2 separate regions of the Homo sapiens genome follow, and region 2 is linked to region 1. The links come from fine-mapping of genetic effects on gene expression. A gene starts in region 1. The other region holds a variant in brackets. All regions are shown on one strand. Distances are from middle to middle. Region 1 holds the start of LINC02461 (long intergenic non-protein coding RNA 2461). Region 2 has its middle 26 kb from the start of LINC02461.

Region 1 (4,402 bases):
TTCTAGTTTTAACCTTATTTCCTAATAAGTAATAAATTATACTTTATTCGACATCTAGCTTCTGCTTTGGTGAGTTGGAAATGTCCCACCTTGTGGGAAACGTGTCTAAGCATTTCTCTTCCCGATTTTGTACTTAGCAAGGGAGAAACTTCTTGATGTCAGGCTGTAGTTTCTGTCTCCCTTCGTCCTCCTCCATCTCCCCACCTAGAGTTAACACAAGATGGGAACAAAAGAAAAACAGTGAATGCCAAAGAAAGACCAGAAGTAAGTACATGAGACAAAAATCCAAGGCAGGAAAAACACTGAAATAATAATAGCACGAAACAATGGAGAATTAAAGAAGAATGGCAAATATGACTGAGTCCTCTAAACAGTTGGCTATAGCTCCACAATGGAAAGTCCTGCTAGGGTCTTTGATTCTGTCCCCTAAACCATCCCAGATAGTTATGTAGCATGTGGCCTCAAAGGAGGGAGATTTTCATCCTTGTCCTAAGGAACATGTTTCTGGGCTTCCCTTATCTCCCTAATCTAATCTTACCTCAAAGCCTGCTGCCACCATTCAGTTATTCTTTTTACCCCTACTCGATATACAAAATAATTATTATTTGTGATATAAAAGTTCTTTTAAGCCCAAGACAGTGACTAAGTTACATCTCAAATATTTTCTAATCAAGATATTCTTATTTTCAAGTACAATATTCCTAGGCCTCTGGTCTGGGTCTCTGTACAGACAACATAGCCGTCACTATGTAGCAAATAATAAAATTAATGTGACTTGCAATATTAATCAACTATTAGACAAAAGTTCATGAGGCGTTGTGCCATTTTTCATGTTAGCAATAGCTTTTAGCATTTTGTTTCTTTATTCCTAAAATATGGAAAAATTCTTTGTCATAGTTGCATTTCAAAATGACCCAAATACTCCTGCCAAAATAAACAACCCTAGGTTTATTTTCATTATAAGTTTCCCTCTCTTTACTGCCCATTGGCTTCATTTTTTAACCTTGTTTTGCCTTTTTTCCCCTCTGAAAACCGAAAATTTAAATTTTCTGGTTTTAAATTTTTTTATGTCTTATTGGAGTTTTAGCTGACTGTAGTCTTTTTCATGTCAGTATTATTCAAGTTTCGGAAAAGTCTCTTTACCATCTATTAACAACTAAATAATTATAAATTGTTGGCCAAAAAAAAGAGAAAGAAGAAAAGAAAAAGAAAGAAAGGAAGAAAGAAAGAAAGAGAAGGAAGGAAGGAAAGAAAGAAAGAAAGAAAGGAAAGAAAGGAAGAGTAGTGGGGGAAAAGAATAAAATTTGCCTGCACCTTTTTGTTGTTTTTTTTTTTCTCTTCTCTTTTTATTTTTTAATTTTGCCTACACCTTTTAAAGCAAAACAATTACATTTTTTCTTTTAGTTTTATAAACTAATGAAATTAATCTGTTCCAACTCAATCAGTTGTTTCATACTGGAAAATGTCACACATCGGGGCTTTTAGGAAGGAATCATTGCCGTGCCTTGGTGAAGGGTGAGTATGGCTTTAACAACTGCTGGTGGAGGAGCCTTGGAGGAAAGAACAGGATAGTAAATGCAATTGCTTGTCTCCTGAGAGTTAACTCACAGTCCAGATGTCCTACCACCTATCTACCTGTAGTCTGAAGGCACTTTGTGAGTAATAAAAGCATGTAAATTGTAAATTCTTCTCCTTTTCTCTTTCAATATCTTACAATGTATCAATGACAATTGCTATTGTTATTGGTAACAGGTTGATGTCATACCGAAGGCTTTGGAGCCAAAAAAGCTTGTGTTTGAACTCCGGCCCCACCATTGTATGGTCTTAGACAAATGACTTAACCTCTTTAAGCCTTGATGTCCATACTGTAAAAAACGAGACAATAAAACCTACTTATTGTAAGGATATAATGACATTATTAACATATCTATTCTATTGCCTGATGCATAGCATAAGCTCAAAAATACTAGTTTTCCTATTCTAAAATGTTTAAAAAAAATTATAATCCATACCTCTTCTACTTCAGAAAGTGTTTTAATACATAAAAGCAGTGATTTAGCAATATCAAATCGAAGTTTGAGAGCCAGAAGAACTTGGAGGACCATTGATTTTAAAGGTTTCTTTGTTTTTTATGAACAACAGGAATTTCCTCTTATGTCTTCAGAACCTTGAGTTTACCAGGAAGACAAGGTGACTGAGATACTTCTTTAAGCCCAGAAACTGAAGAAGGCAGCTGTCAGGGATGGCTTGGAATGTTCTACAAGGTTTATATCAACTGAGGGTTGAAAAATCCTACTTATCCACTCTCCTTACTTTAGAGATGAGGAATTTGAATCTTAGAGAGTTTATGACTTATCCAATTGGTGGTATTACCGAAAACCAAAAGCCAGTTTGCTTCCTAGTTGAATGTTCTTTCCATCATGCCATGTGGAGTTATTTTGAGTCAACCAGAAAATCTGCAAGGACATCAAAATAATGTTCTTTCTCCCTCTGACCTCAGTAATAACCGGTTAAAGATTTAGAATGCTTTAGAGTAAATCCTCAAAGCAGCTGCAGGTCCTCAATGTTCCAGAATAGATATTTTAAGTTCTCCAAATAAAAAATCCCAATAAAGACCTTCTTTTTGCAGTAACTAAAAAAGTTTCCAGCTCTCCTGTCACAAAGTGGCTATTGAGACTTCAAATGTCAGATGATCTCCTTTGAAGCAGCAAAATAGAGTGGATAGAACTCCAGGATGGATGTCAAAAAACTCTGTGATCCTAGTTCTAACTCAAATTTACCTTTCATATGGTATGAGGTAAGCTTTAGATATCTCTGGATTTGAAGTTATTTTTGACTCCTATTTTTCTCACACACTGGTGTGTGTCCATATCTAGCCCAACAGCAAAACTTGGTGGTGCTATATTCAAACTGTATCCAGAATCTGACCACTACTCACCACTGCCACTGCTACCACCTTCATCCAAACCATCATTGTCTCTCCTCCGGATAATGGAAGAAGCCTCCTAATGAGTCCATCTGCCTGCTTCTCCCTTTCCTTCTCTGCACATCAGTAATTCCAGAGTTTGTCAGTGACACTTTCATAATTGACTTGTTCTTCACTTGGTAATCTTAATTTGTTCCTAAAAATCCTCCCACAAAGTAAAATGCCATTATGTGAAAAAGCGTTTTTATGAATTTGAATTTAAAAATTTAGGAAGCATTTTATCCCAACCCAACATACCCAAAGCATTTTTATAGATAGGAAAATATTTTAACTGAACAATAGAAATATTTTTCAATTGTCATGACATTATATAAGTAATGAACATCAAATTGAAAATAAAATAGAGTTTGTTCATAAAATGTAATAACATGAAGGTTTATGTGATGGTGAGTGCTGGTTGGTGGGGGAGTGTTAAAGGCAGTTGTTCTTTGTAAGGTATATTTTGCTCTCTGAACAATTTTGTTTATGAATGTTTTCAACCATTTGGAGGATCATGGTTAACTTGCACTTACAGCACACTTAACATTTAAAGTTATAGCAGAGAAGACAATTTCAGTCAAAATAATAGCTGAAGATGAGAGCACTTGGAAAGATGTGAAAATTTATTTAGTACACAGAGACAGAAAAATTACAAAAGATGTTACCTCATCATCCCTCTCTCTAGTCATACTTAGACAAAATGAAATACTTTCAGTTTATCCAAACACGGCACTCAGTTCAAATTTGTTCTGATATTCAATGATTAAGAACTGATGACTAAGAACTGTTAGAATAAAAATAGCATATTTTCCCAAAAGCTGCAGTGTCAAAATATCATGCTTATTTACTTTATATGTTTTAGAGTATCTATCTATCTATCTATCTGTGTGTGTGTGTGTGTGTGTGTATATATATATATATATGTATTTTAGAAGAAGTTGTTTGGAAAAGGGTAACTTCTCAAGAGACTTTATGGCAAAAGGTTGTTAACTAAATAGGTTCTGTGGGTGTAAGTCTGTGTTTACCAGTCTTTTTATCAAGGTTTCTAATTCTTTGTTAGGTGGTGTAGGACACTGCTGGCTTGTGTATAACCCAGGAATCAGAACATAGGGCAGAATGTCCACCTAACACAGTTCATGTTATTTCTTGAGTTCCAGTTATACACCACGTATCCTGATAAAACAAGTCATACAAGAAAAGGGCTATTATCACCCTCAAGGAGTCCTCAGCCTAGTTGGGGAGGCAGTAGGGCGGATGTATAAACTCTATAATATTATGAGTACTGCAATACAGAGTGTTCTGGGGCAGACAGGAGGGAGTCCCTAATTATCCCCAGGGTAGGGTGGAATTGTCAAGGGGCAACATAGAAGAAGAAACATCTAAAGTGAACCTTGAAAGTTCAGATATCTGGAAATGGAGGGAAGGTGGAGCAGGGTT
Region 2 (4,402 bases), 26 kb after region 1:
AAAAAAAAAAGAAAAAAAAAAAAGAGTTCTGTCTAGTGTACACTTCTGCTTTGTGCCGATGGTGTTTATGAAACAAAAGTATTATCACTCTTCAGAAGAGAGTTGGGGTTGAACAAAAAGAAAACAGAAAATTTGTCTGAGAAACAGAAGAAGCTGATAGCATTAGGGCCTACAGGACAAGAGAAGTTTCTCACGAGTAATTTGTGCAGGAATTAAGAGTTCATTAGAAATGACCTTTAAAAAAATAACTAGCTTATTCAAATACTGAGTTTATTTTTCTATAACCATTTTTGCCAGTATGAAAATCATGGTTATCTTGGCGGGCCTATGCAAGACAGCTGAATTCAAAGTAACCTGTTGACATATGGGAATGATAGGAGCAAATGCCAAATTGAAATAAGCAGAAGGAACATATGAAATAAATCATTGCAAAGCTGAACACATGTAGATAGAGCTGGCCAAATTAGACTTTGGGAAAAGCAAGAAAAAGCAGAATGAGATAAATGCTTGGGGTTGGAATCAAAGAATACTGTAATTCTCCTGAGGTCAGAAGAAGCTGCAACATGCAAACCTGAGCTATAGAATTTAAAGGTGGTTACAACAAAATTTTATCTAGAAAAGCCATCAAGGCTTATTCTTTAATTGTATATTTATTAAAGACATGTTACAGGATATCCCTCTTAAGCTGACCTGCCTGTTTACAATACGTGTCTACTTAAGAATGGATTTATAAACATGCATCATTTGCCAAGGTTGAAAATCTCCATCATCTTTTATAAATACATTATCCAGGCATTATTAAAAAGCTGGAACTATTGTCCCAGTGAGATGATTTCTGGCAGGTCTCTGCAGGATTTCCTGTTCTGATATCATTTGAGTAGGTGATGACCGCACGTCAGTCAGGAGCAATAGGGGCTTGCACCTGTGCTCAGTCAAAATGCATCCTATCAAATCAGGGCACTGGGCTTTCCTTTCAGTAGCCCGTTTAAAGTGGTGCTGACCTGAAAATAATCTTGTCTTACTTTTGAAATTTCCTTTTAAAATTGTTTTGAGCCAATCTGTCAACAGGTGTATGCTTTTTCCGCCAGATAGCAGCAATTAAGATATCAACTGCTATTTCTTTGATTGCAGAGCGCGGGGGATGTCCTCACTGAGCACAGTTTAGGTTAGAGGCAGCATCTGGGTTTCTGTAAGAAGCTGATTTTATCCAGTTTGGCAGCTGATTTGATTGAGAAAATGTCATCAAGTGATGTTTTTCCAGTCACAAAAAGGTACTGTGGAAAAGATCCTTAAAGGACTGTCATGAAGACCCATTGTCCCCACAGTGACTGGACACAGCCATACTTCTCTTGCTCTATGAGGAGGTTTTGAATTTAAATAATAGAGAAACACTTTAGGTTTTTATTGGCTATTTTTAAACTAGTTTCATGGAGACAGATCTTTAGTGTACATATTAAATTTTAGAGAAATATACTTTTTTGGAATTGATACAATTCTGCTTTTTATATCTTAATTTATGTGACACCACTGTCATTCAAGAAACACTATGAGTTGTTATACCTCCATGACTCCTACTTCTTGGTTCCTTAAAAGCAGGAACTTAGACAGTAATATTAATAATTATTATTATAACGATTACTTTTTATAATGCTTACTATATATACATTGGCACTGTTCCAAGTACTTTACCTGTATTATCTCATTTAATCCTCACAAAATGCAGGGAAATAGGTACTATTATTTCCCTTGAGCAGATAAAGAAACTGAAGCTTAAAGAGTTTATTTAATATTAGAGTGTTTATATTTATCTTTCTGACTCCAGTTAATTTATTTCCTAGCATAGTGTATCTGTGTGATAGGATTACGTTGTAGCCTGCCTTCAGTATCTGGCTTTCAATCCCTGCCTTAAGTCCTACCCTATAGGTTTCAACCTCTGTTCTTAGTCACTTTGGGCTCCTGTATTAGTCTGTTTTCATGCTGCTAATAAAGACATACACAAGACTGAGTAATTTATAAATGAAAGAGGTTTAATTGACTCACAGATCAACATAGCTGGGGGGGCCTCAGGTAACTTACAATCATAGTGGAAGGGGAAGTAAACATGTCCCTCTTCACATGATGGCAGCAAGGAGAAGTGCCAAGCAAGAGGGGGAAAAGAACCTTATACAACCATCAGATCTCTTGAGAACTCACTTCACTATCATTCGAACATCATGAGTGTAACTGCCCCCATGATAAAATTACCTCCCACCAGGTCTCTCTCACTACATGTGGGGATTATGGGAACTACAATTCAAGATGAGATTTGGGTGGATACCACAGCCAAACCATATCATTCTGTCCCTGGACCTTCCCAAATATCATGTCCTCACATTTCAAAATGCATCATGCCTTCCCAACAGTCCCCTGAAATCTTAACTCATTTCAGCATTAACTCAAAAGTCCACCATCCAAAATCTCATCTGAGACAAAGCAAGTCCCTTCTGCCTAGGAGCCTGTAAAATCAAAAGCAAGTTAGTTACTTCCTAGATACAATGGAGTACAGCATTGGGTAAATACACCCATTCCAAATTGGAGAAATTGGCCAAAATGAAGGGACTACAGGCCCCATGCAAGTCCAAAATCCAGTGGGGCAGTCAAATCTTAATGCTCCAAAATGATCTCCTTTGACTCTATG[T/C]CTCACATCCAGGTCACGCTGATACAACAGGTGGGTTCCCATGGTTTTGGGCAGCTCCACCCCTGTGGCTTTGCAGTGTACAGCCCCTCTTCTGGCTGCTTTCATGGGCTGGCATTGAGTGTCTGCAGCTTTTCCAGGTGCACAGTGCAAGCTCTCAGTGGATCTACCATTCCAAGGTCTGGAGGATGGTGGCCCTCTTCTCACAGCTCCACTAGGCAGTGCCCCAGTGAGGACTCTGTGTGTGGGCTCCCACCCCACACTTCCCTTTCACACTGCCCTAGCAGAGGTTCTCCAAGAGGGCCCCACCCCTGCAGCAAACTTCTGCCTGGACACGCAGGGATTTCCAAACATCGTTTGAAATCTAGGTAAAGGTCTCCAAACCTCAATTTTTGATTTCTGTGCTCCCACAGGCTCAACACCACATGAAAGCCACCAAGGTTTGTGGCCTGCACCTGCACCCTCTGAAACAACAGCCTGGGCTGTACATTGGCACCTTTTAGCCACAGCTGGGATGTAGGGCACCAAGTTCTCAGAGTGAACAAAGCAGCAAGGCCCAAAAAGCATTTTTTCTTCTAGGCCTCTGGGCCTGTCATGGGAGGGGCTGCCATGAAGATCTCTGACATGCCCTGGAGACATTTTCCTCATTGTCTTAATGATTAACATTTGGCTCCTTGTTACTTATGCAAATTTCTGCAGCTGGCTTGAATTTCTCCTTAGAAAATGGACTTTTCTATTGCATTGTCAGGCTGCAAATTTTATGAACTTTTATCCTCTGCTTCCCTTTTTTTTCCAATTCTAAGCCATATATTTGTGAATGAATAAAACAATCCTTTTAAGAGCATCCAACTGACATCTTCAACACTTTGCTGCTTAAATTTTTTTTCCTCCAAATACCCTAAATCATCTCTCTCAAGTTCAAAGTTCCACAGATCTGTAGGGCAGAGGCAAAATGCTGCCAGTCTCTTTGCTAAAGCATAGCAAGAATCACCTTTGCTTCCATTCCTGATAACTTCCTCATCTCCATCTGAGACTACCTCAGTCTGAACTTTATTGTCCATATCACTATCAGCATTTTGGTCAAAAACCATTCAATAGGTCTCTAGGAAGCTCCAAACTTTTCTACATCTTCCTGACTTCTTCTGAGCCCTCTACACTGCTCCAGCCTCTTCCTGTCACCCAGTTCCAAAGAAAGTTCCACATTTTTGGGTATCTTAATAGCAGAACCTCACTTCTGGTACCAATTTACTGTATTAGTTTGTTCTCACGCTGCTAAAAAAGACACACCCAAGACTGGGTAATTTATAAAGTAAAGAGGTTTAATTGACTCACAGTTCAGCGTGCCTGGGGAGGCCTCAGGTAACTTACAATCATGGCGGAAGGCAAAGCAAACATGTCCTTCTTCACATGGTGGCAGCAGGAAGAAGTGCCAAGCAAGAAGGGGGAAAAGAACCTTATAAAACCATCAGATCTTGTGAGAACTCACTCAGTATCATGAGAATAGCATGAGGGTAACCCCCACCCCATGATTAAATTACCTCTCACTGGGTCCCTCCCACAACATGTGGGGATTATGGGAGCTACAATTCAAGATTAGATTTGGGTGGGGACACAGCCAAACCATCTCAGCTACTATAACAAAAATACCATACACCTGATGGATTAAACAATATAAATTTGTTCTTCATAGTTCTGGAGACTGAGATGTCTGAGATCAAGTCCCAGCAT

What was found. PIP is the estimated chance that this variant, and not a neighbour inherited with it, causes the effect.
Region 2: its variant is the best candidate, but not a certain one, in a credible set for the expression of LINC02461 in lung (GTEx, PIP 0.68).

The regions. Positions count from the first base shown.
Region 1 is chr12:43,153,069-43,157,470 of GRCh38, forward strand. LINC02461 (long intergenic non-protein coding RNA 2461) reads left to right here and starts at 2,247. Exons shown (of 4, transcript NR_146866.1): 1 at 2,247-2,797.
Region 2 is chr12:43,179,292-43,183,693 of GRCh38, forward strand. No RefSeq gene overlaps it. Among named protein-coding and RNA genes, the nearest start is that of LINC02461, 26 kb to the left of the region's middle. The variant T/C (reference allele first, on the strand shown) is at 2,678.